4 linked regions of the Homo sapiens genome follow. The protein of the gene in region 3 interacts with the protein of the main gene of each other region in a pairwise test. Each region holds a gene or a part of one and is shown on either strand. Other genes may lie near its edges. The genes, in order: DBN1, MYH9, CXCR4 and ATP13A2.

Region 1 (7,022 bases), on a different chromosome or scaffold from region 3:
AAATTGAAAGGGTACCACACTGACCTGCTAGAATGTCCACTGTCACTCTCACGTGAACTATACTTGAAGGGCCAGATGGGACTATAAAATAATGGTAAGCTCCTTCAGACTTTACCTGAAATGTTGATAACTGGTGAAAATAAATCAGCTCAGGGGGTTCACAACACTATTCTGTCTACCTGCATGTGTGTATGTTTGAAATGTTAGCAAAAAAATAAACTTTATCAGGGCTGGGTGCAGTGCACTTTGGGAGGCCGAGGTGGGAGGATCACCTGAGGTCAGGAGTTTGAGACCAGCCTGGCCAACATGGTGAAACCCTGTCTCTACTAAAAATACAAACATTAGCCGGGCATGGAGCCGTGCACCTGTAATCCCAGCTACTTGGGAGGCTGAGGCAGGAGAATCGCTTGAACCCAGGAGGCAGAGGTTGCAGTGAGCTGAGATGGCGCCATTGCACTCTAGCCTGGGGGACAAGAGTGAGACTTCATCTTAAAAAAGATAAATAAATAAAAATAAATAAATAAATAAATAAACTTTATCAGGCAGGGTGCGGTGGCTCACGCCTGTAATTCCAGGACTTTGGGAGGCCGAGACAGGTGGATCACGAGGTCAGGAGTTCGAGACCAGCCTGACCAACACGGTGAAACCCTGTCTCTACTAAAAATACAAAAATTAGCTGGGCATGGTGGTGCACGCCTGTAATCCCAGCTACTCAGGAGGCTGAGGCAAGAGAATCGCTTGAACCCAGGAGGCAGAGGTTGCAGTGAGCTGAGATTGTGCCATTGCACTCCAGCCTGGGCGACAGAGCAAGACTCTGTCTCAAAAAAATAAAAATAAATAAATAAATAAACTTGGCTGGGTGAGGTGGCTCACACCTGTAATTCCAGCACTTTGGGAGGCCGAGGAGGGCAGATCATGAGGTTAAGAGATCGAGACCATCCTGGCCAACATGGTGAAACCCCATCTCTACTAAAAAGACAATAAATAAATAAATAAATAAATAAATAAATAAATAAATAAATAATAAACTTTATCTGCTGGGTGCGGTGGCTCATGCCTGTAATCCCGGCACTTTGTGAGGCCGGCGGGTGGATCACCTGAGGTCAGGAGTTCAAGATCAGCTTGGCCAACATGGTGAAACCCCATCTCTACTAAAAATACAAAAATTAGCCAGGCGTGGTGGTGGGCGCCTGTAATCCCAGCTACTTGGGAGGCTGAGGCAGGAAAATCACTTAAACCTGGGAGGCAGGCCGGGTGCAGTGGCTCACGCCTGTAATCCCAGCACTTTGGGTGGCTGAGGTGGGCAGATCATGAGGTCAGGAGATCGAGACCACCCTGGCTAACATGGTGAAACCCCGTCTCTACTAAAAATACAAAAAATTAGCCGGACGTGGTGGCGGGCACCTGTAGTCCCAGCTACTTGGAGGCTGAGGCAGGAGAATGGTGTGAACCTGGGAGGCGGAGCTGGCAGTGAGCTGAGATGGCGCCACTGCACTCCGGCCTGGGCGACAGAGCGAGATTCCGTCTCAAAAAAATTTAAAAAATAAAAAAATTTTAAAAAACCTCACTCTGAAAGGATAAATAAAATGTGGTATATCCATACAATGGAATATGATTCAGCCTTCAAAAAGAAGGAAATTCTGATGCATGCTACAACATGGATGAATCTTAAGGACATCATGCTAAGTGAAATAAGCCACACGCAAAAGGACAAACACCGTGCGATTCCACTGATAGGCAGTCTCCAGAGTAGTCAACTTCATAGAGACAGAAAGTGGAATGGTCGTTGCCAGGAGCTGGCGAGTGGGGAAGGGCAGAATTTGTGTTTAATGGATGGTGGTGGTGGTTATCCTACAATGTGAATGAATTTAATGCCGCTTAATGAAATGCAGATTTTAAAATGACTGAAATGGTACATTTTATGTATTTTGCCACAGTTACATACATGTGGCCAGGCGCGGTGGCTCACGTCTATAATCCCAGCACTTTGGGAGGCCGAGGCGGGCAGATCAACCGAGGTCAGGAGTTCAAGACCATCCTGGCCAACATGGTGAAACCCAGTCTCTACAAAAACACAAAAATTAGCTAGGCATGATGGTGTGCGCCTGTAATCCCAGCTACTCAGGAGGCTGAGGCGGGAGAATCGCTTGAACCTGGGAGATGGAGGTTGCAGTGAGCCAAGATCACGCCATTGCATTCTACCCTGGGCGACAGAGTGAGACTCCATCTCAAAAAAAAAAAAAAAAAATACATGAATCAACTTATGAAAAAAAGATCTTACCCAGCTCGTTCTCCACCATGTTCTTTATGTGGCAGGTGGCAGGTGTGTGTTGAATGAATGACTGAGGATGGAGCTTACCAGCCACACATCATCCCCACCCCATCCAAGGGCAGATGTGACTGGAGTGACTTAATGCTGCTGCCTGCAGGACTGTCTTGCCTCCTCTCTCTCAGCCTCCTGTGGGTGACTCCGGAGCCCGTTTGAGTCCCCACAGCCATGCATCTGCCCATTACAGTCCCAATCCAGATGAGTATCAACCCACCTCCCTTCCTGAACTGAGCCATGCTCAGTCCTGAATGACATTAGCTATTTCCAAAATACTAAATTCAAAGCATGGAGATGTGACTCTGCTGTGATTCTCAGGGACCAATCCACAGGACCTACGGGCCATTCCCAATGTGTGGAGATTCAGACAGTACCCCTGGAACAAAGGGGCTGCTCCCAGGGAGATGCTGCTCCCAAGGAGATGGTACACACTGCCTGCAGATGCTCAGCACTGGCCCAGGCTCACCCATGCCGCCTGCCTCACTCCTGTGGCCCCTCAGAGTGCAGAACAGTGTCTAATCGCCGAGAAACCCCAGGGCAGGGGAGGGGGAGCCTGGTCAGTGAGGGTCTGGGTCTAGATGGAGTTTCTCTTCCAATCTAGAGCACAAGCTTCTCCAAAGTAGTCTTTTTCCACGGCCAGAGGCCAGAGCCCCACGTGATGAGGTGCCAGGCCTCATGCTCCATGGCACCCTGTGCCCATGCAGCTCCCCAGAACAGCCACCACTGTCCCTGAGCCACTGATCTCCCCACAAGGCCCAGGAACACAGGGACCATTCTCACTTCCCTGACCCAGAGACCGGGAGCCTTGGCAAAGAACTTACAAAGATAGACTGCTCCTTCAACCGCCTCTTGGCCTCTTCCGCTTCTAAAGTCTGCTGTTTCCTCCTGGAACGATAAGCAGCCAGCACCCGTCAGGGTGCGCCCGGGGGCCCCTGGAGCGCTCCGGGCGGGCAGGCTCACCTGTGCTCCTCGATCTGCTGCTCCCGCTCCCGGTAGCGCCGCTCGCGCTCCTCTTGCTCCTGCCGCTCCTGCTCCATCCGCTCCTGCTCGAACCTGAGCCTCTCATCCAGGGCCTTCTTCCGCTCCTCCTCCTTCCGCAGCTCTTCTTCCTTCTGCAAGCCCCGGTGCGAACAAGGGTAGGCCCCGAGCCTAGGCGCCTGGACCCTGCCCCTCCAGCCCCTCCCTAACCCAGCGCTGGGGGCGGGGCACGTGGCATGGGCCATGCCACTGCAGTGAGGGACTCAGACCTGCCCCATGGGGTCCATGAGGGGTGGCTCAGCCAGGCCGGGCTCAGGGTTCCATACCTTGGCCTGCTCCCAGAACTGCTCTCGGTTAATCCGCTTCATTTCCACAGCTGCATCCGTCTTCTGGTAGGTGGTGCCCTGCAGTGTCGAAGGACCCAGCATAAGCAGGCTGAATGCCCCAGGAACCCCCGACACCTAAAGGGTGAGAGCTAAGAGGGACCGGGCAGGCCAGACTCGGGCACCAGGCCACGCAGGCAGAGCCCACGGGTGCCAAACACACACTAACCACGGGCTCTGCGTTCTCATCCTCTCGCAGCCGCAGTCGGTGCAGCACAGGGCTGGAGAGTCGCGCCAGCCCGTTAGAGAGCCGCTGCCCGATGGCACCCGCGTCTATGTCTTCCACGCTGCTGGCGTTCACGATCACGTCGACACCCTTCCGCAAGAAGACGGCAGTGCTCAGGCGGCACCATCCTCCCGCCATCCCCACCCCAGCACGCAGACCCTGGTGGCTGTCCCCACCCCCAAGAGCGCTGGCCCCTGACACGCACCTGGAAGAACTCCGCCACCTTAGCCACGTGGCTGGCACAAGCGCACTTGCGGGCATCAGGCACATCTTCGCCCACCTGCAAAGTACCCAGCAAAGAGGGGGTCAGGAAAGGACAAGGGGGGCCCTACACGATAGGGTGCATCTTCCCCGGGGTGGGAAGAGGGTGGGCTTCCCTCTCCACGGGTGTCAGAGGGCCGACGGGGAGGGCGACTGCTCTGGGCCTTCAGTTCCCTTCCCCAGCCCCGGCCGCATACCCAGTTGATGAGCAGCTCTGGGCCCTCAGCCCCCTTCCCCAGCCCCGGCCGCATACCCAGTTGATGAGCAGCTCTGGGCCCTCAGCCCCCTTCCCCAGCCCCGGCCGCATACCCAGTTGATGAGCACGTATTTTGGCAGAGCAGCTTGGGAGTCCTTGACACTGCAGAAGCCGTACATCACCTTCTGGTTCTCAAAGTGTCCCGAAAGCTCCTGCAAGCCCCCTTCTAGGGTAATCAGGAGAGTGTCAGGTCTCTCTGCCTCCTAAACCCTTCCCAAAAAGAGCCTGGAACTCAAAGCAAAGACTCCTCCAGGCCTCCACAGGCACCCCCAGGGGTCTTCTGGCCTCTGGGGTCTGTGGGTCCCAGTTTTGTGTTGGTATGTGTGGGGGTGGTGGCGCACAGGGATGTAGCTTTGCCTGTGACTCCTGCAGGGCCTGATTTGGGGGTAGGACTGAGGAAGTGTTTGTTCTTCACACTCAGGTCTCATTCTTCACACATCATCATGTCTCACCAGGTGCCAGTGCCCAGAGGCACAATCAAGCCTTCTGGCTCTGGGGAAGGCGGTGAATAGGGCCCTTCCCCCAAAGTGTCCCAGCTGTGTGGCTTCAGATAAGTCACTTTCCCTGTTGGAGGCTCAGCCTCAGAAGTCCAACATTCAACAAGGCTCTGAGATTCCTCCCCACCCTGGGGACACAGGGATGACTGGAGGAAGGACACCCGCCAGATCCAGACAAGTGTGGGGCTGCAGGGTGCAGGCAGGGAGGTGGCCTACAGCCAGGTGGGTGGGGAAGAAAACAACCAGGAGGAGGGGGTGGAGAAGGCGGCGAGGGAATGGCTGGAATTCCTACCTCCTGATGCTGCAAGCTTGAGGTCATCGGAGCCATCTTCATATGTGTACAGAGCCCTGGGGAGAGGGAGGGGTGGCTGTCAAACTGTCAGGGCCCAGGCCGCCAATTCTGGGTGGGGACGGCTCTGGGGAGGGAGAGGGACATGGAGTGGGTAGGACAGGAACGGGGAGGGCTCCTGCTGTAGCCATGACAACAGGGCCAGGCATCGGTTCAGGCGGGAGCCCAGCAGGGTACTGCTGGAGGCCTGGGTCAGGGGGGCGCAGGCAGTGAGGGGAGAAATTGCTGGCTGGTCGAGCTCAGTGCGCAGCATCCCGGCCCTGGCCCTGGCAGCCTACAACCCAGTGGAGCGGGTGTGTGATGGAGATTCCAAGGCGACGGTTCCTTGGTTACCGTTCCCTGGCTACCAGGATCCTCATCCCCCATTGGCTAGTGCCAGGAACTTACCTGGCACGTGCCTTGGTCCCCGCTGCCCCTCCCCCGGGGAGGGAGGAGGAGAAGAGAGAACCTGGTGCTCCCAACAGCTCTGGGCATCCCCCAGTAACCATGGCAACCCTGCAATTGGCACACGACTGGCCCACCCCAACTGCATTCTCCTTGAACACAAAGGACCCTGGGGACCCGCCCTCAGCCTCAATCTCCGCCTCTCTGAAATGGGGATGAGGTCACTGCAGTCACTCTCGCCCAGACTCTGGCCCCGGGGTGGCCAAGCCTGAGCTCCAGGCCTTCCAGCCCCTAGGCTGCCTCAGTCCTGGCTGAGGCTTCCTGAGACTGCTGGCCTTTCCTTCTGTCTGAGCTCTAACAGAAAGCTGACCTGGTGGCCTTCCTCCTTCCTCCTCCTCCCTAGCTTTGTGTGCCCTGGCTCCTTTTGATAGGCTGCGGTGACAGAGCAACCATTGCACAGAAGGGAAGGCAGAGATGCCTCCTCCATCACCCCATGCAGGCCCAGGCTGAGGACCCTCTGGGAGGGAGGAGAGCCGGGGCCTAGGAGGAAGGGCCTTGTCCCTGAAGTTTGAAAGGGCTCTCAACCCCTTCTCCAAACTCCTATTCCCCAGGTGCCAAGGCAGGAGGCTGGGGCTGTGAGGAGGGGAGGCAGAAAGGGAGGGCAAGGGAGAAGAGAAAGAGGAGGGGAGAAGCAGAGGGAGAAACCAGGAGAGGAGGAAGAAGAGAAAGGACAGAAGTGAAGGGACAAAGGAAATGAAGGCGGGAGGGATGGAGGGGACGTCTCAGGAGGTTGTGGCCAGGGCCAAATGGCCTCAGCCCCTCCCCTTCCTGGATTCCCGGCTTCCTACCTCCAGGAAGGAACACAGGTGGGCTGTGGGGCTGGGAGCTCCTGGTCCAACTGTTACCCCCAGCCCCAGCCTGGCCCTGACAGATGCTTCCAGCACAGCTGGCCCACCACCTGTCCTGCTGCCCTAACCCACCACGGGAACAAAGGGCCCTGGGAGAAGCAGGCTCTGTCTCTCTCCATGCACTGATGAGAAACTAATGCAGAGCCCAGGGACCCTAGTTCCTAGAGACTGCTGTAGACATCAAGCCTCCCTCTGAGAGGACCTGTCTTGGCCTGCCTAGGCTCCCCGGGGTGCCTTCCATCCTCAGCCCCTGGCTCCCCACCTCCGGCCACCTCTTCCTGCTCCAGCCGCAGCTCTCCCCCAGCAGAAACCATACCCCAGTTCAAACCCTCCAGCCTGCCTTTCCATTGGACCACCCTGTCCACACCACACACTTGGGACACACTGGACGGCTCCCTGACCCAAGCAGGGTTCTGGACAGGGCTCACCCTGAAGCCTCTGCCTATGTAGTTCT
Region 2 (7,022 bases), on a different chromosome or scaffold from region 3:
ACTAACCGTGGTGACAGGGCAAAAAGGCAACTAAAGACAATCATCTGTGTATCCCACCCCGTAATGCACACTTTGACAGTGTTCGTCACCGTGGACGTGAGCCCAAGCTGAGCTTCATTTTCTACTTTCTGTCCCCTCCTGTGGGCCGGAAGCCAGTGCCCATGGTGCCACCCCTAATGCGCACCTGCCACTCAAAACCAGTGCCCAGCCTGCCGGTCCATCCCCACCACAGGCAGGAAACACCTTTCCTTTTGTTATTCTCCTGTTACTTCTTTTAACACTAAAGACCTTTGTCAAATAGCCTTTTTTTCCTTTTGCAGATAAATCCGAAATTGAGATTCCCCAAATCAAAGAGAGTGACTGGCTGTGTGCAGCCCGACCACACCAGTAAAAAAATGCCACCAGCAATCAGAGCATCTATGCCCACAACCTTGACCACAATGAAGTTTTAAAGTTTTTGTGGGTTTTTTTTTTACACTTAACATTTTTTTTTTGGCCGGGCGCAGTGGCTCATGCTTGTAATCCCAGCACTTTGGGAGGCCGAGGCGGGTGGATCACAAGGTCAGGAGATTGAGACCATCCTGGCTAACATGGTGAAACCCCGTCTCTACTAAAAATACAAAAATTAGCCGGGCGTGGCGGCGTGCGCCTGTAGTCCCAGCTGCTGGGGAGGCTGAGGCAGGAGAATGGCGTGAACCCGGGAGGCGGAGCTTGCAGCAAGCCGAGATCATGCCACTGCACTCCAGCCTGAGCGACAGAGCGAGACTCCGTCTCAAACAAACAAACAAAAAAAAATTTGTTAAACTAAGGTTATTCTTGTTACATGATATGGCGTATCAGAGCTGTTTTTACGTGTTAATTATTCTTTAATTATTAGTGAGGTGAAGATTTCCAAGTATGTGTCCCACACTCCGGGCTGCTTCTTGGAACCATCGCCCCAGAGCCCAGAAGGCTGAAGGGTGTCAGGACCCGGGTGATTCTGGAAGTCTGCATTAAGTGAGACCTTCTTGAACTCCACCCATGTCTAGGCTTGTACTTGTTTGCTTCTGTGTTTTATGTACCCAGTCATACACCGTTTTGCAAGTTTGCTGTTGGACTATCATGTTTCCACTCACCTCTGAGCCTCTGAGTCTCTGTCAGTGAGATGGGGCTGGAAGCACCCAGGACCTTCCCAGGAGGTGCCACCCTGCCAGGTTCCCGCCCTGGGCCGAGCCCTGGCACCTTCATATGTAGTTGGCTCAGTCGGGTGCCGCCCACCCTCACCTGGGCCCCGCCCACCCTTACCTGCAGCTTCCGCAGCTGTTTGATGGCTTCGTCCCGGTTCTTGTTGGCCGAGTCGATGTGCGCCTCCAGGTCCTTCAGGTCCATCTCCAGCTTCTTCCGGGCGGCCACTGCCATCGAGCGCTGCTTCCTCTCGTCCTCCAGCTCTGCCTCCATCTCCCGCACCTGGGGGAAGGAACATCAACAACTTGGGAAGCTGGACCCACTGGGAGACCCTGCCCTAGCTCTGAACTCAGGAGCCTCAGGCCAGTTCTGCAGGATCCATGGGGCCTCGGGAAACCAGTGGGGATTACTGACCATAAGAACTCTAAGAAAGTGAGTCACTGAACCCCGAGACAGGAGGCTAGAAAGAAGGAATATGGGAGGGGAGGCGTGGTCAAGGGGCCCTAACACAATCCAGGTGGAAGGAGAGAACAGAAGCCTGCGTGAAGCCAAGGCAGCCTTGGGCACCCATGGGGTAGCAGGAGGCCATGCACACCTGTCTGACCAGCTGCTTCTTCTTCTCCTCGCTCTGCTCGTCCCGGCCCTGCAGGTCCCGCTCGAACTGGGCCTTCATGGCCTGCAGGTTGACCTCCAACCGCAGCTTGGCATCTTCGGTGGCCTGCAGCTCGTCCTCCAGCTCTTCCAGCTGCGTCTTCATCTCCTCCACCTGCTGCTCTAGGGCCCGCTTGGACTTCTCCAGCTCGTGGACCTGAGCCCCAGAGAGCCCAAGTCAGGAGCAAAGGGACTGGCAGGTACCTGGGTCTGCGCGACCCGGAGTCTGTGCACACACCGACCCTCTGTGATGACCCCACTCGGGCCCTTCCCAAGACCTGGCTGCCAGGCCCAGGACTCACACTCTTGCCCACATCATCCTTGGAGCTCATAAGGTCCTCCATCTCCGTGCGGAACTGCTTGTTGAGCCGCTCCAGCTCCGCCTTCTGCTCCATGGCTTCCTCCAGGGCCCGGGCCAGCGACAGAGCCTTGGTCTCCTTCTCTCGGGCCTCCGCCTCAGCCCGGTCGCGCTCCTCTGCATACTTGGCAGAGATGGTCTTCTCCTCCGCCAGGAGCTGGGAAAGAGGTGGGCACCATGAGGCTCAGAGCTACGGCCCCCAGCAGGGCAGGGCAGCTGGGCCTAAGCTCCCTGGGGAAGGAGGAGCCCAGAGGCCACGGTGGAGAGGAGCAGGCCTAGGAAGCACAGGCCCAGGGCTGTGCCCAGGACAATACACACAGTCCCGTGCATCCTCATGATGGGATGACTGCCGACTGGAGCAGGCACTACTGCGAACACCATGTTGTAACGTCTGTTTAATTTTCATCACTTACTAATCGCAACCCTTTATGGCACGCTGCCCCTTCCATGAGAGCCCTCCAAACCTGTAAGAGCTTTGGTTCTCCTGAACCACAGCTGGCATTTGGTTGGCACTTTTCACGAAGTGAATGCCAAGCTGGCTGCCAAGAAGCCTGAACCCCATTTGTGGTCTTCTCTAATGACAGCTGCTGTCCCCTGGCATCTGTTCTCTGTGTGCACCCACCTGGCTCTATCCTATTTCCCCACCTTCCCTTCCTTTTGGCCCAAACCTTAATTATCCCATGGGTTGCTGACCATTTCCTAAAGGGCCAGATAGTGCATTCTTTAGAGTATGCAGGCCCTACAGTCTCTGCAGCAATGGCTCAACCCCACTACCACAGCACAAAGCAACCAGAGACAACATGAGAACCATGGAGCGTGGCTGTGTTCAGTCTATCGTTCCCTACAAAATGCAGGGGCCGGATCCGGCTACCACAGTTGGCTGCCCGATGTCTTCTACTGTTCTATCCTGCCCCCGAGTCCACATCCCCCTCAGCTGCTCTCAGATCTTTTGGAATAAGGAAGTGATATGAATGCATAAATAAATCGTTTAAAAGACAGTCAAACCGCAGGAGTTTGAGACCAGCCTGGGCGATATGGTGAGATCCCTGTCACTATGAAAAACATCTAAAAATTAGCTGGGTGTGGTGGTGGTGCACGCCTGTGGTCCCAGCCACTCAGGAAGCTGATGTGGGAGGATCACTTGAGCTGTGGTTGCACCACGGCACCCCAGCCTGGGCAACAGACAGAGACAGTCTCCAAAAAAAAAAAAAAAAAAAACCCAAACTATTTTAAAAAAACCCAAACTATAATTAAATAATTATAATAATGTAATGATATAATGATAATTAAAGTGATTTTAACTCAGTGCTCAATGGAGCCCAGGCTGGAGTGCAGTGGCGTGATCTCGGCTTGCTACAGCCTCCACCTCCCAGCCGCCTGCCTTGGCCTCCCAAAATGCCAAGATTGCAGCCTCTTCCCGGCCGCCACCCCATCTGGGAAGTGAGGAGCGTCTCTGCCTGGCCGCCCATCGTCTGGGATGTGAGGAGCCCCTCTGCCTGGCTGCCCAGTCTGGAAGGTGAGGGGTGTCTCTGCCCGGCCGCCATCCCATCTAGGAGGTGAGGAGCGCCTCTTCCCGGCCGCCATCACATCTAGGAAGTGAGGAGCGTCTCTGCCCGGCCGCCCATCGTCTGAGATGTGGGGAGCGCCTCTGCCCCGCCGCCCCGTCTGGGATGTGAGGAGTGCCTCTGCCCAGTGGCGACCCCGTCTGGGAGGTGAGGAGCATCTCTGCCCGGCCGCCCCGTCTGAGAAGTGAGGAGACCCTCTGCCTGGCAACCGCCCCGTCTGAGAGGTGAGGAGCCCCTCCGCCCTGCAGCCGCCCCGTCTGAGAGGTGAGGAGCCCCTCCGCCCGGCGGCCACCCCGTCTGGGAAGTGAGGAGCGTCTCCGCCCGGCAGCCACCCCATCCGGGAGGGAGGTGGGGGGGTCAGCCCCCCGCCAGGCCAGCCGCCCCGTCCGGGAGGTGAGGGGCGCCTCTGCCCGGCCGCCCCTACTGGTTAGTGAGGAGCCCCTCTGCCAGGCCACCACCCCGTCTGGGAGGTGTACCCAACAGCTCATTGATAGCGGGCCATGATGACAATGGCGGTTTTGTGGAATAGAAAGGGGGGAAAGGTGGGGAAAAGATTGAGAAATCGGATGGTTGCCGTGTCTGTGTAGAAAGAAGTATACATGGGAGACTTTTCATTTTGTTGTGTACAAGAAAAATTCTTCTGCCTTGGGATCTTGTTGATCTGTGACCTTACCCCCAACCCTGTGCTCTCTGAAACATGTGCTGTGTCCACTCAGGGTTAAATGGATTAAGGGCGGTGCAAGATGTGCTTTGTTAAACAGATGCTTGAAGGCAGCATGCTCTTAAGAGTCATCACCACTCCCTAATCTCAAGTACCCAGGGACACAAACACTGCGGAAGGCCAAAGGGTCCTCTGCCTAGGAAAACCGGAGACCTTTGTTCACTTGTTTATCTGCTGACCTTCCCTCCACTATTGTCCTATGACCCTGCCAAATCCCCCTCTGCGAGAAACACCCAAGAATGATCAATAAAAAAATTAAAAAAAAAAAAAAAAAAAAAAAGACAGTCAAACCAGTTCATTAGAGAAAATCTGAAAAATGTAAAAAATCAGAAAGGAAAAGTCACTCCTCAACCCATCGCATGAAGACGCCCTCTTCCGCTGGCCTTCTCCCTGGGACCCTCAACAAGCCAGAGCCTGAGGGTCCTCTAAGCACTGGCCCCGCACGGCCCCTCCCCGGCGAGACCCTGAGGGAGCCCAGGCTTTCTCTGATGGGCCCTTTGCTTTGGACTCAGTGCTTGAAGGAGAGGAAATGCAAAGGATGGGGCCAACGGCCACACACCTGGTCAAACTTCTTCTGCTTCTTCTCCAGGTTGCACGCGCTCTGGCGCTGGTGGTCCAGGTCCACCAGCAGGTCGTCCAGCTCCTGCTGCAGCCGCGTCTTGGTCTTCTCCAGCTTGTCGTAGGCGGCCACCTTCTCCTCGTGCCGCTGGCTCAGGCCCTCCAGGTCCTTCTGGAGCTTCCTCTTCACCTCCTCAGCAGTTTCCAGGCACCCCACACTGTCCTCCATCTTCTTTTTCATGTCGGCCACCTGGGCAGGAGCAAGGAGTAAGCAGATGCCCGAGATGGCACCTGCTCAGGTGGCACACCCGTCCCTGGGGCAGCTGGGAGCCTGCCTGCCACACCGTGGAAGGGGCACCAGGGATCTGCCCAGTTATGAAACCGCCTCCCCCAGTCACTTCCCTCTCCACAGGGGCGAGACAAATGGAGCTTCTGCAAAGGGGCATCTGTCTACTGTGTGAAGCCCGGGGGAGGCTGACCCCCAGGCCCGCTGTGGGGGCTCCCAGCCCACATCCACACCAAGCCTCTTGCTCTACGGAGACTGCTCCCAGAGAGCAGGGCCAGTGCCCTGTAGGGTGTCCACGGGGTCCCCATCACCCAGCCCCATCCTTGCACTTGGAGATAAACCCACAATCAGGCACGCTCGCGGGCTACTCCTACCCTGACTGTGGAATGGACTCCCAGCCCATCCCGAGGTGGTTCAGGCCTTCTGGCCTGGCACATGGAGGCCCAAGATAGGATCTAGAGCAGGGGCTCTGAAACCATATTAGGCTACGGACCCCTTCGCAGTCTAGAGAGGCCAAGGGACTCCTTCTCATGACAATGTTGTAACAGGCATGAAATAAACATGGGATCAGCAGGGCAACCAGTACAGAAAAATGCAGTTGTCACACATTCTAAAAAACCATGGCTCAGGAAGCCACGTGCTGCTAGATAGCACATCAGATAACAAACAGCGCAGGCCTGGGACCCATGAGGCCAAGGAGCTCGGCCACAACCCTGACAGGGTAACTGGCCATTTCTACAGATGATGACGGCACAGGGACTGCCACCACCATGGCTTGCTGCCTACATCCATAATGGAAGCAATGCTGAATTTCAGCTAAAGACTGGTGAAAATAAAGGTGTAAAATAGTGAAAATAGTGGTGTCCCCCATCTAAGTCCACAGATCCCTGGATTCCTTTCCTTGAGAGCACTGATGTGGGAGAGCACGGTTGGCTTCCCAGGGGGAGAGCAGCAATGGGCCGGCCCAGCGGGCAGGGCTGTCCTGCAGTGCCCAGGCCAGTGCCCGGCCAGCAGCTCCCCAGCCTGCAGAGTCCGGCCGGTCCCCCAGGCCTCCAAACCTGGGCATGGAGGGTGGCGATCTGCTTCTCCAGGTTGTGCTTGGCCTCCTCCTCCTCCTCCAGCTGCTCCCGGAAGGAATTCTTCTCGTCCTCCACCTGCTTGAGCTTGGTGCTCAGGCTCAGCTTCTGCCGGTTCTCCTCCTGCAGCAGCTCCTACTCGCGGGTTGAGAGGGGTGCGGGTGCTTAGGAGGGTGGTGTCCAAAACCCAGGAACCCCACACCCTTGAGGAGAGGGAGGAGCTGGTCCTGCTGATTTAGGGGATGGCCACGTAAAGACCTGGAGGGAGCTGGGAGGACGCAGAGACCCACCCACAGGATGAAGCAGATGAAGGAGAGGATGGGCAATCCGATGGGCTCTGAAGCTAATGTTGCGTGGACACAGAGGCCTTTCTGGAGGGGTCCACCTTCTGGGAACCTGGCGCCACCCCTACCTGAGTGTCCTGCAGCTGGGACTCCAGCGCGGAGAAGTCCTTGGTGAGCTTGCTGGACTTGCTGTCGGACTGGCTGAGAAGCCCGGTCACGTTGTCCAGCTCCACCTGCACCGGGCGGGGAGACACAAAGGACCATGGACCCACCCCCACTGCTCCTGCCCCACCTCATCTCCTTTAGGTAAAGCTGGACCTGAGTCACAAGCTGAACCATGAGGGTCTGAGGAGCCAGTT
Region 3 (7,078 bases):
AGGAGGATGAAGGAGTCGATGCTGATCCCAATGTAGTAAGGCAGCCAACAGGCGAAGAAAGCCAGGATGAGGATGACTGTGGTCTTGAGGGCCTTGCGCTTCTGGTGGCCCTTGGAGTGTGACAGCTTGGAGATGATAATGCAATAGCAGGACAGGATGACAATACCAGGCAGGATAAGGCCAACCATGATGTGCTGAAACTGGAACACAACCACCCACAAGTCATTGGGGTAGAAGCGGTCACAGATATATCTGTCATCTGCCTCACTGACGTTGGCAAAGATGAAGTCGGGAATAGTCAGCAGGAGGGCAGGGATCCAGACGCCAACATAGACCACCTTTTCAGCCAACAGCTTCCTTGGCCTCTGACTGTTGGTGGCGTGGACGATGGCCAGGTAGCGGTCCAGACTGATGAAGGCCAGGATGAGGACACTGCTGTAGAGGTTGACTGTGTAGATGACATGGACTGCCTTGCATAGGAAGTTCCCAAAGTACCAGTTTGCCACGGCATCAACTGCCCAGAAGGGAAGCGTGATGACAAAGAGGAGGTCGGCCACTGACAGGTGCAGCCTGTACTTGTCCGTCATGCTTCTCAGTTTCTTCTGGTAACCCATGACCAGGATGACCAATCCATTGCCCACAATGCCAGTTAAGAAGATGATGGAGTAGATGGTGGGCAGGAAGATTTTATTGAAATTAGCATTTTCTTCACGGAAACAGGGTTCCTTCATGGAGTCATAGTCCCCTGAGCCCATTTCCTCGGTGTAGTTATCTGAAGTGTATATCTGCAAAAGAGGCAAAGGAATGGACATTCACTTCCAATTCAGCAAGCATTAACCCAGTTAAAAAAAATTTTTAAAGCAATTTAAAAAACCAATTCAGGCTTGCTTTCTTCAGGAAATTCTGAAGTAGTGGGCTAAGGGCACAAGAGAATTAATGTAGAATCCTACAACTCTCCTCCCCATCTTTTCCCATAGTGACTTCATTATATCCTTCTTTGGTAGAACCAATTACAAAATTCTTTGTTTAGAACAAAAGGGCACTGAGACGCTGAGGGTTTCAAAGTCACATCTTGGCTAACTCCTCTGCCCCGCCCACTAGAGGGAAGAAAAAAAACCTTCCTTAGGAGGAAAAAAAAAATACACACAAAGAGGCCACTCCCAGGCGGCGTGGGGGGTGGGGTGGGTGCTGCTAGGAGGGGCAGTGATTAACTTTTTGTAAGAAGTTTTTCGCCCAGGGAGGGAAGAGGGGAGAAGGGAGGATCACGGGGGGAGGGCGGGGGCGTTGCAAAGACTCATTCTCCTAAAGCGCAAAAACTTAATTTTCCCACGCCTGCCTAAATACAAACCATTCTGGGCTTCAAGCAACTTGTAGTGGGTAAAGAGAATGCGGTCTTAAAACGAAGGCCCTTCGGTGCTTGGGGTATATTGGGCGGGAGTGTCAGAAAATGAACAAACGGCACCTCCTCCCCCAAGCGGGCGCTCCTCCGGTGTGTGGGTCTCTTGCCATCCTCGTGTTTATCACTTGGCGCGTTTGGGACGTTAGGGAGCGGGGCATTTTCCTGGGTGGAGAAGGTAACGGGGTCTGCACCCGTGGTCCTCGCCCCAAGTTTCATTTCCTCACTCTCCCGGGTGGCTTCCCATTACCCCGCCACTGATCCAGTTAACCCGGCCGGAGGTGGGCAGCTGGAAGCCTCCAGGCGGTGGGCACGCGGGGGGCCGGGTCGTCCAGCCCCGGGCCGCCGCGGCTGCCCACTACACCCACGCCAACCGCCCGCAAGCAGCGCTGCAGGGGCTCCGCTGGGCGACACGCCAGGCTCTGTCCCACAGGGTGCTGGGGAGCGACTGGGCGGCTCCGCCGCGAGCGTCTTTGAATTGCGCGCCGCTGCAGGAAACCAAAAACTCCCTAGCAAGAGGGTTTCAAAAGGTTTCTGGAAACCACCGACGGTTAAACATCACAACTGGACTCGGAGAGAGCCAAACGGTTTCCCCACTTGCACCTGCCAGTCTTCGCGGCGGCGACCTGGCAGCCCAGGTGCGGTCTTAACCGCCCCCGCCCCTCACCCCGTACCCGCTCCTATCCCCGGAGCGCAAATCTCAGGGCTGGCAGCTGCGCGGTGTCAAAGGGGAGGTCAAACCACTCCGCTGACCTCTGCACGACCCCAAACTCTCGAACTGCAGGACCCACTCGCGGCCGTGGGGAAGAGGCGCGCTTCGGACGGCGGGAAGGTTTTCCCCCTCAAACCCAAAGCGCGCGGGCGGATCAACTCCTAGCTGCTGCCACCACTCGATCCCCTCAGAGGATCGGCGCGGTGGGTCCACCCGCCTCTCCCGCCCTCTGCCTACTGTGCTGGGAGACTGGCACAGCTCCGTCGGCCGCACAGAGTTTAACAAACACGCACCCAGTGTCAAGAACAGTCACCAGGCGCTTAACCCCGAAGTTAAAGCGGGCGCAATCTCCTCCTGGGAACTCAGCCCAGGCACGCCGCCCTCCGCCTCTAAATTCAGACAATGTAACTCGCTCCAAGACATCCCCGCTTCCCCAAGGAAGAGACCGGTGGTCTGAGTCCCGAGGCAGCGCGCACGCCTTCTCTGCACTTGTGCACAGAATGTTCTTACGTTTGCAAACAGCGTGCAAGCCGCCGCGCGCGGCGGGACTCAAGGGGGAGACACATGCAGCCACTGGAACGCTCTTTCCAGTCGTTTCTCCTCGACTCACAGAGAAAAAGATTCCAATCCTGCTCCCCCCCCACCCACCCGCACTATATAGGCATGGTCAAGAAAACTCCTTTCGGTGACCCTTTTTTGGAGTACGGGTACCTCCAATGTCCTGGCCGCTTCTGCCCGCTCGGAGAGGGGCTGCGCTCTAAGTTCAAACGTTTGTACATTTATGACAAAGCAGGTTGAAACTGGACTTACACTGATCCCCTCCATGGTAACCGCTGGTTCTCCAGATGCGGTGGCTACTGGAGCACTCAGGCCCTCGGCGTCACTTTGCTACCTGCTGCCGCAGCCAACAAACTGAAGTTTCTGGCCGCGGCCGGACTTTTATAAAAACACGCTCCGAGCGCGGCGCATGCGCCGCTGGGGCGGGGAGGGAGAAGGCGGGGTGGGGGAGAGGGGCAGACGCGAGGAAGGAGGGCGCAGGGGCGGGGCGGAGAGGTGCGCGGCTTGGGAAGCCCAGGGGACCCTGCTGTTTGCGGGTGGTCGGTAGTGAGTCCGGAGCCGGACAGGACCTCCCAGAGGCATTTCCTAAGTTTGAGGGAAGCGGGATGCGCCTGAAGACAGGTGGGAAGCGCGGGCTAGGAACGCGTCTCTCTGTGGCGCGTCCATCCTTGCTAAAGTGGATGGAATTCCAGACCTGGGAATGCTACAGTAGAGACACTGAGGCCCAGGGAAGGGGAGTGACTTGCTGGAGTAACCCAACCAGTAGGCGGCAATGCTGGAAGTAGGGCCAAGCTTCCAACGCCATTCCCCGCGCTTTCAGCAGACGCAGCCCATTCAGGAGGTAAAAGGAGTAAAGATCCTTCCTTCGGAGGATGTAGCTATACTTGCACATTCACAGCATCACTAGGGTCAGGTGCAGATAATTAGGAGATACTTTCAGAAGAAGGTAGGATTTGGCATAATTCTGGAGACTGATCAGATGTAGATATGTATTGCTCAGTAATTTCATAATAGCGGTAACCAATTCGCGAATAGTGCTTTATTATCCTAAAAGTATGCTTTATTATAAGAGTAATTTAGCGACCAGTACTTTTTGTAACAGATCACTAGGAACTTGCACAGAATCACTCATTCATTCTCACAACACCGTGTGGGTATTACCATCACAGAGATGCATTTAGTCCGATATTTATAGAAGGACGAACTGCGTGCCACGCACTGTTCTAGGCGTTGGGGATCCAGCGTGAACCAGACAAGGCCCGCATTCGGAGAAACCAGCAAATAAGCCCGGAGAGATGAAATGCCAGGGATGGGCAGGGATTCCAAGCCGGGCTTGAACCCAGGTCTTCGGTCCCCATACTCGGCGTCTTCCACGATTTTGAGCAGAGGACAAGCTTTGGCACGAATCAGAAATTAGGTTGAAGAACTGGGCGGGGCGGAGTGGGGGTGGGGGTCAGACGTTTAAAGCGATCTCAGACTGGCTGAGGTTTGCAGTGGGCGCGCAGACAGTGCTTTCCCCCTCGCGCCACTTCCCTCCGGCGCGGAGACTGGGTGGGGCGGGGGAGCGAGTGTGGGGCGGGGCCGAGAAACTGCGTCCGCAGGCGGGGTGGCCGCTGCGGAGATAGCTGGGACCGAGGCGCGTGCGTCGCGACACGGACCCCAGAGGCCCCCACCCCGAAATGGTCCCGAGGAGAGGGATTGCCCAGACTGCACTCTACACACGATCCCTCTTTTCTATATCAAAAGAGGAAACATTTCAGTCTGGAGTGTTCCAGAGGTAGTTCGGAGGCAGGGAACCTTTTCTCTACAGAGCATGACTTTCCCCCTTTGTCTGGGACCCCTCCCTAATGTTGGTGGTTAAAGGTTCTCATCTACTCTGCACTTTCACTGACACAGGAAAGATGATATCCGGGCCGGGAGATGGGACTCTCAGAAACGAACGAGTTAGGACACACACTAATGGCCAGATAAAATCAATTCTAATATTACATTTGTAGAATTAAAAAAAAAAAAAGAAACTCCAGGTTCTTGGAGGGTGGTGGCTGGAAGAGGTTTCGGAAGCTCCACGCCCCTTCTCACAGGCCTTGCATTACGTATCTCTTCATCTGTATCCTTTATAATATCCTTTATAATAAACGATAACGGTAAGAAATAAAAATGAAAATAAAACCGTAAAAACACTTTTACTTTTTTCGAATCTTTAATAAAACTTAAGGATCTTCATATTTTTATAGACACGGTAGATCCTATCTACTGAAGGTCTAGAATTTCAGAGCGTTTTCATGACTTGCTTTTCACAAAGCCTGGTAGTGGCAGAATCAGTATGTTTTATCCTGGACCGTAAGCTGCACCCTACCTCAAAACTCCTCCCTGCACGATGTCTAAAACCTGAAAGGTGAGATCTCCCAAATCTGTCCAAAAAGGGAAAGAGGAGAAAACTCGGAGCAAAATGGTTTGCATAATAAATATTTGTTGATTGTAGACAGACAAAAGAAAGCTCCTTCCTTTATCTGAAGACTCCTTTCAGATCTTTTTAGGGATCTCTACTAAAAGGAAGCAGATAATTAAAAGAACAATGAGATGCTATTTGGTGACTACCAAATTAGGCAAAAATCCATTTTTTTTCAAAGATAATATTTGGTCTCCGGATTTGAAAAGACCAGCTGTCTCTCGCTTGTCACTGATGGGAATGTGGCTTGGGACAGCCTCACTGGAAAGCATTTTCTATTCAGCAGGAACTTCAGAACAGTAACTCCACTCATAAAAACTTATGCCACAAAGGTATTTGTGGAAACATTTTTTTTTAAATAGTGAAATGTCTGAACATCCCTAAATAACCACTGTTAGTGGAATAGTTGACAAGATTTTGGTTCATCCACATCTGAAATTCCATATGGACATCGCGAATGTTATTTGTGAAGAATTTTTAGTGACATGGGGAAATACTTATGAAACATTAAGTGCAAAAGGCAGGATTCAGAATTGTGTATATAGTGTGATCTCAGTTATGTTAAAATATGCATTTGGAAAATATAGGGAGGAAAACCAAAATGTTTATAGGCGTTTTCCTTGGTGCAGAATTATATTTGATTTTTGCTTTCTTCCTGGGGTTTTTCTATGCTTTCCAGATTTTCTGTAATAGACATGAATCATTTTCATATTCATAAAAAAGCCAACAAATTGTATGACAAAAAGGGAATCAGAAGGCCTCCTTCATGTATGTTTCCACTTCTAAAGTATCTACTAAGATGTCAGACTTTTTTCACAATAGTCCTTTCCCCTTTCAAGGAAGGCTTGTTTTCCAATGGGCTAATCTTAAACTTCTATTTCCACTGGGCTACCTAAACCTTATTCTCAACTATTCTATGATGTTCTTTAAAAAACAAACAAAACTCAAGCATTTACTGAGCGCTTGTTATGTGCAACTGACCTCATATAATCCCCTCAATAACTCTACAAGGCAGGTGCCATTACTTTTATTACATGGTAAAGAAATTAGGGTCTGGAAAGATGAGGAACTGGCCTGTGACCCCGGAATGAGGATCTGCACCCAGTCTGTCTGGCTCTGAAGCCCAGGTCATTTGGCATTTACGTACATACTGCTTTGAGTGGCATCCCTTGTGATGTTACTCAACTTTTAAATGAGTATATGTCATACTCCTATCCCTCCAATATTTTAGGTTCCTTAAAGTGAATGCCCAGATATCCTCTATCCAGCTAGCCCATTGCTGAACAAATACTGGGCTCCTTAATCTTTTACTGAACCTTTCTTAAAAGAATGAATGACTTTCCTGTGTGGCTCTGGCAACAGAGTCAGGCTTAGGGGCTGTCAGGGATTTGGCAGGGTCCCCAACTTCTCAGGTTGGCTTTAGCCCAGGGAATAACTAGCCTTGGCCACAGTTTGGAGGGGATGCTTACAAATCCAGTGACACAGTGGCAAGCATCCTGCCACCTCCTGTTGCTCGCTCTGCAGCTGGTTGATTTGTGTGTGAGTGTGTGTATCTGTGTGTGTGTGATGAAAAGCTGTACTCTGTCCCTAAATTGGCTTCATGTTAGCTAGGCAGAAAGCTTAGGAACAGACCTTTTCCCAGTGGTGGATGGCAGGAGGTTAGAGAAAGGAGGAGGTGCCAGGAGGAGGTGGATGGCAGGAGGCATTAAAGGCCTTCAGAATACACAGGGTCTTCTGGTTCCTTCGCTGGCCCCTCTCCTGTCTCTAAAAAAATTGATCGCTTTTGTTTCTGAAAGAGGAAAAAAGTGCAAACTTCCTTGACAGTAGTAAGGGATACTTAGAGAAAGTTAATGTTTTCCTAAGTGATTAAAAAAAAAAAACAAAAACGGAGACTATTTCTCAAGGCGCAAGTAATTCTAACACAGGGTTACAAATCTCAAAGAGACAATGGTATCAAATGTCA
Region 4 (7,022 bases), on a different chromosome or scaffold from region 3:
GAAGTGCCGGGATTCCAGGCATGAGCCACTGCGCTGGGCCCCCTCCCCAGTTTAAAAGCGCTCTGTGGCCCCCGACAGCCTCTGAATGTCACCTAGCCTCTGTCAACCAGGCCACTGCCTACCCGGCCCTGTCCTGCTCCACCACTCCCTGTGCTCAGGTACGCAGCACATCTGTGCCACGCCACTCCCTGTGCCCCAGGCACACGGTACATCTGTGCTATGACACTCCCACCTTTTACCCTTGCTTCTCCTCGACCTGCCCCTCACTGAGGTCACTGAGGGACCTGCTCAGGGGGCTTCCTTGACTGCCTTCTCTCTAAGGAAGTGTCCCCATCTAGAACCCATCAAGCTATCCCACTGGCTTCCTTCCTAAAACCCACTGCCCACTCCTCAGCCCCAGCAGCTCCTTTGTGCACTCCTGGATCACTTACTTTGGTGGGGGACACACACACTCCAGTGACCACAAGGATGCCTGTGTTGGTCACTGCTGGGCCCCAAGGGTTGGGAGCAGCACGGGATGCACACTAGGGCCCCAGGTCCCCACCAGTAATTTTTTTTTTTTTTTGAGTTTTGCTCTGTCACCCAGGCTGGAGTACAATGGCATGATCTTGGCTCACTGCAACCTCTGCGATTCTCCTGCCTCAGCCTCCCGAGTAGCTGGGATTACAAGCATGTGCCATCATGCCTGGCTAACTTTTGTATTTTTAGTAGACGGGGTTTTGCCATGTTGGTCAGGCTGGTCTTGAACTCCTGACCTCAAGTGATGTATCTGCCTCAGCCTCCCAAAGTGCTGGGATTACAGACGTGAGCCACCGCGCCCGGCCCCCCACCAGTTCTTGAACACATGAATACATGATTCTAGACATTTCATCTGCCAGACCGTGAGCCCAGTGAGGGCAGGAGTGGGATGGGGTGGATCCTCTGGGGGTTTCCATCCCTAGACAGGACCTGGCATCCTGTGGGTGCTGCTGAGAGAATAACGCGGGTGTGGAGGCCTCACTGGGGCGCCTGTGGCTGTCCCGCTCCCCTGCACCAACCCCACCTGCGGCCCCACCTTGTCGAAACACACCAGCTGCAGCTTGCCCCCCAGGTTGATGCGCAGTGGGTGGATGCAGAAAATGCCCTGTCTCCGCAGTCGGCTCTGGGCGTAGAGCGTGCACACAGTCATGGCAGCAGGCAGGGCAGGTGGCACCACCACGGTCACCAGGTCGAGAGCCCGGATTACAATCTCATTCAGAGGCACCTGGCAGGGGGCACCATGAATGTGAGCACCTGGCTGGTTGGCCCCTGGGCCCTGCTGGCAGCACCCCCCACCCCACCCCCAAGGCTTACCCGGTTTCGGTAGAGGATGAAGATGCTGTAGATGGTGCCGAGGAGAGCTGTGGGGACAGCGAAGGACTGAGTGGGATTTGGGACCCAGGTGGGGGGGGCTATGGGCAGAGGAGGGTGCAGGGGGCCACTCACCCAGGACAGAGAGGGCAGCCACAAACTTCATGCTGTGTTTATAGAACTTGAAGTTGATGGGCCGGGGGTGCAAGATGGAGCTCACCAGGCCCCCTTTTGCCGTGCAGAACCCTGGGGAGGAGGCGGGGACCCCAAGGCAGGGAAGCCAGGGTGAGGGCAGGCCTTCCCCACCCCTAGCCCTCCCGACCCGTGCCTCTGGAGTTGCAAGACATGATGTTTGTGAAATTAGCCATCAGCAGTGTGGAGTCCTAACAGGTCTGGCCCGGCTCTTGTAGGCTTTTTAAGGGCTTTAAACAAGGAACTAGTGGATAGCATCTAAACACTGGGTGGTTCCACTGAAAATCCAGACACAGGGAAGGCTCCTGCCTGCCCGCTACATCCCTGCCCGCTCCAGCACTGTAACCCCGGCGGCTCCTCCAGATCTTGCAATGCTTGGCCTTAGTCTGGCCCAACTTCTGCTAAGATGGGAATGCTCAGACCCCAGATGGGGGGCAACTGGCCCGAGGTCCCACAGCAGGGCAGCAGCAGAGGTGGGCGTGGGGTCCAGGGTTCCAGGTCCCACCCTGCCTCACTCCACCTCTCCCAAGGGTGCTGAGCCCGGGATCTCTCTCAAGCCCAGCCTCCCGGCTCATACCTGTGCGGGTCACCACTGCCAGGACGTGCGGTCCCACATAGGCCCGGGCCTGCAAGATGAGGGTCCCGCAGAAGAGTGTGTGCCGCCGGTGTGTCTCTGCACAGTAGGGCCCCAGCCCCTCCGGCAGTGCCGTCTTCAGCACTGGAATGCTCTCTCCTGGTGGGGAACGTGGTGTGAGGACCACTCCACACCCCTCCCTCCCACCAGCAAACCAGGAGTTCTGTGTAGAATTGTCCCACAAGCTCTAAGTCTCAGTTAACTCTGTAACCAGGTGTGAACAAGAAATCACAGCCCCATTTTACAGAGAGGAACACTGAGGCTCAGAGAGGACGGAGATATAAAGGCACAGGGAGACACTCCTGGAAGCAGGTGGCAGCCAGCTCCCTGGAACCAGCGGGGGGGGGTGGGTCAGACAGAGCATGTGTGGGCATCATGTGTGCAGTGGGGCAGGGTGGGGGAGTCGTTCTCTTTCTGCTGGAATTATTTTATAACATGCATGGAGTGCTTTTCTAACTCCAACCAACAGAAATATTTACAAGGGGCCAGATGCGGTGGCTCACGCCTGTAATCCCAACACTTTGGGAGGCTGAGGTGGGCAGATCACTTGAGGCCAGGAGTTCGGGACCAGGCTGGCCAACATGGTGAAACCCTGTCTCTACTAAAATACAAAAATTAGCCGGGTGTTGTGGTGGGCATCTGTAATCCCAGCTACTTGGGAGGCTAAGGCAGGGTAATAACTTGAACCAGAGAGGCGGAGGTTGCAGTGAGCCGAGATCGTGCCACTGCACTCCAGCCTGGACAACAGAGTGAAACTCTGTCTCAAAAGAGGAGGGGAGGGGAGGGGATGGGGTAAGGAAGGGGAGGGGGAAGGAGGAGGGGGAGGGGAGAGAAATATTTACATGGAGGGGGCAAATATTTCCATGAGTTGGAGTGAGAAAAGCACTGCATGCTCGCCATGGCCCTGTGAAGTCCTGGGCAGGCTGCCTAGCAAACAGTGGCACTCCCTTACTGAATGCCTGCAGGCTGGGACTATTGAGCACCTACTGTGTGCACATTCCTGCAAGGGAGTCAGACAATCCTGCCATGTCTGCCTCACAAGAGATGAGCAGATGAAGTATGTGTGGACAGTTTGTGGAGGGCAGGGCTCAGGGCGTGTGCCCACAAATCATACTGATCACAATTACTACTTTTTTTTTGTTTTCTGAGACGGAGTCTTACTCTGTCACCCAGGCTGGAGTGCAGTGGTGCGATCTCGGCTCACTGCAACCTCCACCTCCTAGGCTCAAACGATCCTCCCACCTCAGCCTCCCAAGTACCTGGGACGATAGACGTGCACCACTACACCTGGCTAATTTTTTGTATTTTTGGTAGAGATGGGGTTTCAACATGATTTCCAGGCTGTTTTCGAACTCCTCACCTCAGGCAATCCACCCACCTCTGCCTGCCAAAGTGTTGGGATTACAGGTGCGAGCCACTGCGCCTGGCCTACGATTTGTGATACAAATACAATGCCAGCCAGAAAACTTCCCTGGAAAAAAACCACTATCCTGTGGTTTTTAGTAAACTCTCTCCAGTATCTACCACCAAAATATAACACATCTCAGAGAAAGAAATACTTGCACACATCAAGAGACACAGGACAAAGCTGCTCCTGTGGCGTCCTTTGCAATGGCTGGAAAATCACATTCTAAATACTCATGGCGAGCGGGCCGGTTGAGTCAGTTACGATACATCCGTATTGTGGACTCTCATGCAGCCATGAGGTGGGGCCATCCGTGCTTGTGGAAGGATGCCAGGAGAAAAAGCAAAGTATGGAACAATACACAGCATACAATCCCACGTTCAGAACAAAAGGAGAGGCAAATCAGCCCATGTGCACACACGTAATGCAGAAAAAGGCGTGGAAGACACCTCACACCCTTCACAGTGGCTGCCCTGGGGAGGGGAAGGGAAGGGGACTGTGGGGTAGTGAATGGGGACCGCAGTCTCTCACTCTGGGAGAGGGCTTCCCACTCTCCTGTGCCATCTGGAATCTTTATGACCTGAAGGTGGGCACTGGTATAGAAACAGCTCAGATGCAGCCAGGTGCTATGGTTCATGCTTGTAATCCCAGCACTTTGGGAGGCTGGGGCGGGCAGATCACTTGAGGTCAGGAGTTCAAGACCAGTCTGACCAACGTGGTGAAACCCCATCTCAACTAAAAATACAAAATTAGCCGGGTATGGTGGCGCACACCTGTAATCCCAGGTACTTGGGTGGCTAAGGCAGGAGAATCGCTTGAACCCAGGAGGTGGAGGTTGCAGTGAGCTGAGATCGCACCATGGTACTCCAGCCGGGGCAACAAGAGTGAAACTCCATCTCAAAAAAAAAAAAAAAAAAAAAAAAAGGAGAAATAGCCCAGATGCACTGGGTGGCTGGCCATTTATGCTGCACCTCTCACGCTCCTAAGCACTTTGCACAACTCTGTCCAGGAGGAGTGACTGACAGCCATCTTACAGAAGAAGGAACTGAGGCACGGAGATGATACGTGGTAACGGCCCAGGGGTGTGAGGTTAGCAAGTCCTAAAGCTGGGATTGTTGCTTGAGAGAAAAAGGAAGAGGAGGCGGAGCGCTGGCACACGCCTGAAATCCCAGCACCTTGGGAGGCCGAGGTGGGCAGATAACCTGAGGTCAGGAGTTCAAGACCAGCCTGGGCAACATAGTGAAACTCCATCTCTACTAAAAATAAAAAATTAGCTGGGCGTGATGGTATGCACCTGTGGTCCCAGCTACTCAGGAGGCTGAGGCACAAGAATCACTTGAACCTGGGGGGTGGAGGCTGCAGTGAGCTGAGATCATGTCACTGCACTCCAGCCTGGACAACAGAGTGAAACTCCGTCTCACAAAAAAACAAAAAAGGAAAAGGAAACTCAAATGAAAACTTTTGCCGCAGGGCAAAGGGTTGGATGGCAGGGGAGGAAGGAAGCTGCAGGCCAGGGGCTGGGGGCTCACCTGTCAGAGAGCTCTCATTCACCATGCACTCGCCGGCCACCAGGGCGGCATCACAGGGCATCAGCCCACCCTCCTGGGGCAGCACCAGGCAGTCTCCGGGCACTAGCTCACTGGAGTCCACCCACTCTTCCTCTGCAGGCAGGCAGGAGAGGAGCTCAGCTAGGTGGGGCCAGCCCCAGCCATGCCCCCCCACCCTCCCACTCCTGCCCCCGCCCCCTGGGCCCTAGCTCCTCACCTCCCCCTGGCCGGCACACGCACACCCGCATGGACAACTTGACCATGTCCCTTAGAGTCTGGCTTTGCTGTGGGCAGGGGACAAGAGGGCCGTGAGTGGGTGGGGGCCCCTGGGGACCCACCTGTCCCGTCCCCACCCACCTTATGGCACTCACCTTTCTGGTCTTGTACAGCGACAGGCAGATGGAGATGGAGGAAATGAGGAAGATGCACAGGGCGTACCAGTAGTAGTGGTCAGCCAGCCACAGCGCGATGCTGAAGGCCTGGAACCCATAGTAGGGGTTCAGTGCCTGGGGGAGGGGCGGGAGGCAGCGTCAGGGCCGCGTCCCCCAGGGCAGCCCAGCCACAGGCTGGGTCTCCTGTGCCCATGGGAGCAGAGGGCCCAGTGGCTGCCAAAGGACTGGAGCCAGGCCTTTCTCCTGGTCAATCCCATCCCCACCCAACCAGACATCCCCAGGGCCCTCAGTTTCTCCGCTCTAAAGAGGACAAGGGTTTATGACCAGCCTGGGCAACATGGCGAAACCCCATATCTACAAAAAATACAAAAATTAGCCTGATGGGGTGGCCTGTGCCTACGCTCCCAGCTACTCAGGAGGCTGAGGTGGGAGGATCACTTAAGCTGGGGAGGTGGAGGGTGCAGTGAGCTGAGATCGCGCCACTGCACTCCAGCCTGAGTGACAGAGGGAGACCCTGTCTCAAAAAAAATAAACAAATAAATAAATAGGATAAGGGTATTTACTGAACCCCCACTACACGCCAAGTGCTTTATCTAAGTGTCATACAATGGCAATGACAATTCTACAAGGCCGGTACCACCATTAGCTCCATTCTACAGATGAGGAAACCAAGGCATGGACAGGTGAAGCCACTGGCCTAAAACCACATAGTTCCAGCCAGGTGCGGTGGCTCATGCCTATAATCCCAGCACTTTGCAAGGCCGAGGCAGGTGGGTCATCTGAGGTCAGGAGTTTGAGACCAGCCTAGCCAACATAGTGAATCCCCGTATCTACTAAAAATACAAAAAAAAAAAAAAATTAGCTGGGCGTGGTGGCAGGCGCCTGTAGTCCCAGCTATGTAGGAGGCTCAGGCAGGAGAATCACTTGAACCCAGGAGGTGGACATCGCAGTGAGCCGAGATCACGCCATTGCACTCCAGCCTGGGCAACAAGAGCAAAACTCTGTCTCAAAAAAAAAAACAACAAACAAAAAACAAAAAACCACATAGCTTCTAAGTGACAGACTGATTTCTATGGGGCCAGACTCAAAGATCTCTTTCATGGTGCCTGCCCCCGATCAGAGGGCTGGGATGTTCACACTTTATTCTAGTTGTGTCCAGGTCACTGGCTTCTCTTTGTCCCTGTGTGACCTTGGCCATGTCACAGCCTCCAACTGAAGCTTGGATTTCTCAGGTGTGAACAGTGCAGTCCCAGGCCCAACCCACGGGACTGTTGGGAGCATGAAAGTGGAGGACGCACAGAGAGGACCCAGGCTCTAGGGCGTGTCTCTGGGGACCCCATAGATGCTCAGGCTGCGTGGATTTGCCTCTTGGCCTCCAATCCCTATGAGTGGGGCCCCAATCTGTGACCCAAGCCTTGGGCAGAACCTCCAATTCCTGGACCTGGTCTCTCTGGCTAGGCTGACTGCGGCAGGTTCTGAGATGACGATCCACTATGGAGAAGGGGACAGCTGGTCTGGTTGCC

Evidence for each region.
Region 1: the proteins of CXCR4 (region 3) and DBN1 interact in binary tests that used the Homo sapiens proteins (3 or more experiments, as listed by UniProt).
Region 2: the proteins of CXCR4 (region 3) and MYH9 interact in binary tests that used the Homo sapiens proteins (3 or more experiments, as listed by UniProt).
Region 4: the proteins of CXCR4 (region 3) and ATP13A2 interact in a two-hybrid assay, tested with the Homo sapiens proteins (one study listed by BioGRID and IntAct).

What each region holds. Positions count from the first base shown.
Region 1 is NC_000005.10:177,463,625-177,470,646, forward strand, and holds part of DBN1 (drebrin), read right to left. Parts: intron 5,276-7,022; coding exon 5,220-5,275; intron 4,597-5,219; coding exon 4,484-4,596; intron 4,194-4,483; coding exon 4,119-4,193; coding exon of another isoform or gene 4,004-4,118; coding exon 3,857-4,003; intron 3,709-3,856; coding exon 3,631-3,708; intron 3,439-3,630; coding exon 3,287-3,438; intron 3,212-3,286; coding exon 3,148-3,211; intron 1-3,147. UniProt on the Homo sapiens protein: Actin cytoskeleton-organizing protein that plays a role in the formation of cell projections. Required for actin polymerization at immunological synapses (IS) and for the recruitment of the chemokine receptor CXCR4 to IS.
Region 2 is NC_000022.11:36,286,968-36,293,989, forward strand, and holds part of MYH9 (myosin-9), read right to left. Parts: intron 6,897-7,022; coding exon 6,792-6,896; intron 6,515-6,791; coding exon 6,362-6,514; intron 5,268-6,361; coding exon 5,019-5,267; intron 2,331-5,018; coding exon 2,118-2,330; intron 1,973-2,117; coding exon 1,760-1,972; intron 1,447-1,759; coding exon 1,285-1,446; intron 1-1,284. UniProt on the Homo sapiens protein: Cellular myosin that appears to play a role in cytokinesis, cell shape, and specialized functions such as secretion and capping. Required for cortical actin clearance prior to oocyte exocytosis. Promotes cell motility in conjunction with S100A4.
Region 3 is NC_000002.12:136,115,128-136,122,205, forward strand, and holds the start of CXCR4 (C-X-C chemokine receptor type 4), read right to left. Parts: upstream 3,023-7,078; 5' UTR 2,934-3,022; coding exon 2,919-2,933; intron 2,743-2,918; exon of another isoform or gene 2,402-2,742; intron 1,847-2,401; exon of another isoform or gene 1,616-1,846; coding exon of another isoform or gene 1,349-1,615; intron 1,109-1,348; exon of another isoform or gene 813-1,108; coding exon of another isoform or gene 786-812; coding exon 1-785.
Region 4 is NC_000001.11:16,994,922-17,001,943, forward strand, and holds part of ATP13A2 (polyamine-transporting ATPase 13A2), read right to left. Parts: intron 5,614-7,022; coding exon 5,479-5,613; intron 5,392-5,478; coding exon 5,325-5,391; intron 5,222-5,324; coding exon 5,090-5,221; intron 2,255-5,089; coding exon 2,099-2,254; intron 1,576-2,098; coding exon 1,465-1,575; intron 1,380-1,464; coding exon 1,333-1,379; intron 1,244-1,332; coding exon 1,055-1,243; intron 1-1,054. UniProt on the Homo sapiens protein: ATPase which acts as a lysosomal polyamine exporter with high affinity for spermine. Also stimulates cellular uptake of polyamines and protects against polyamine toxicity.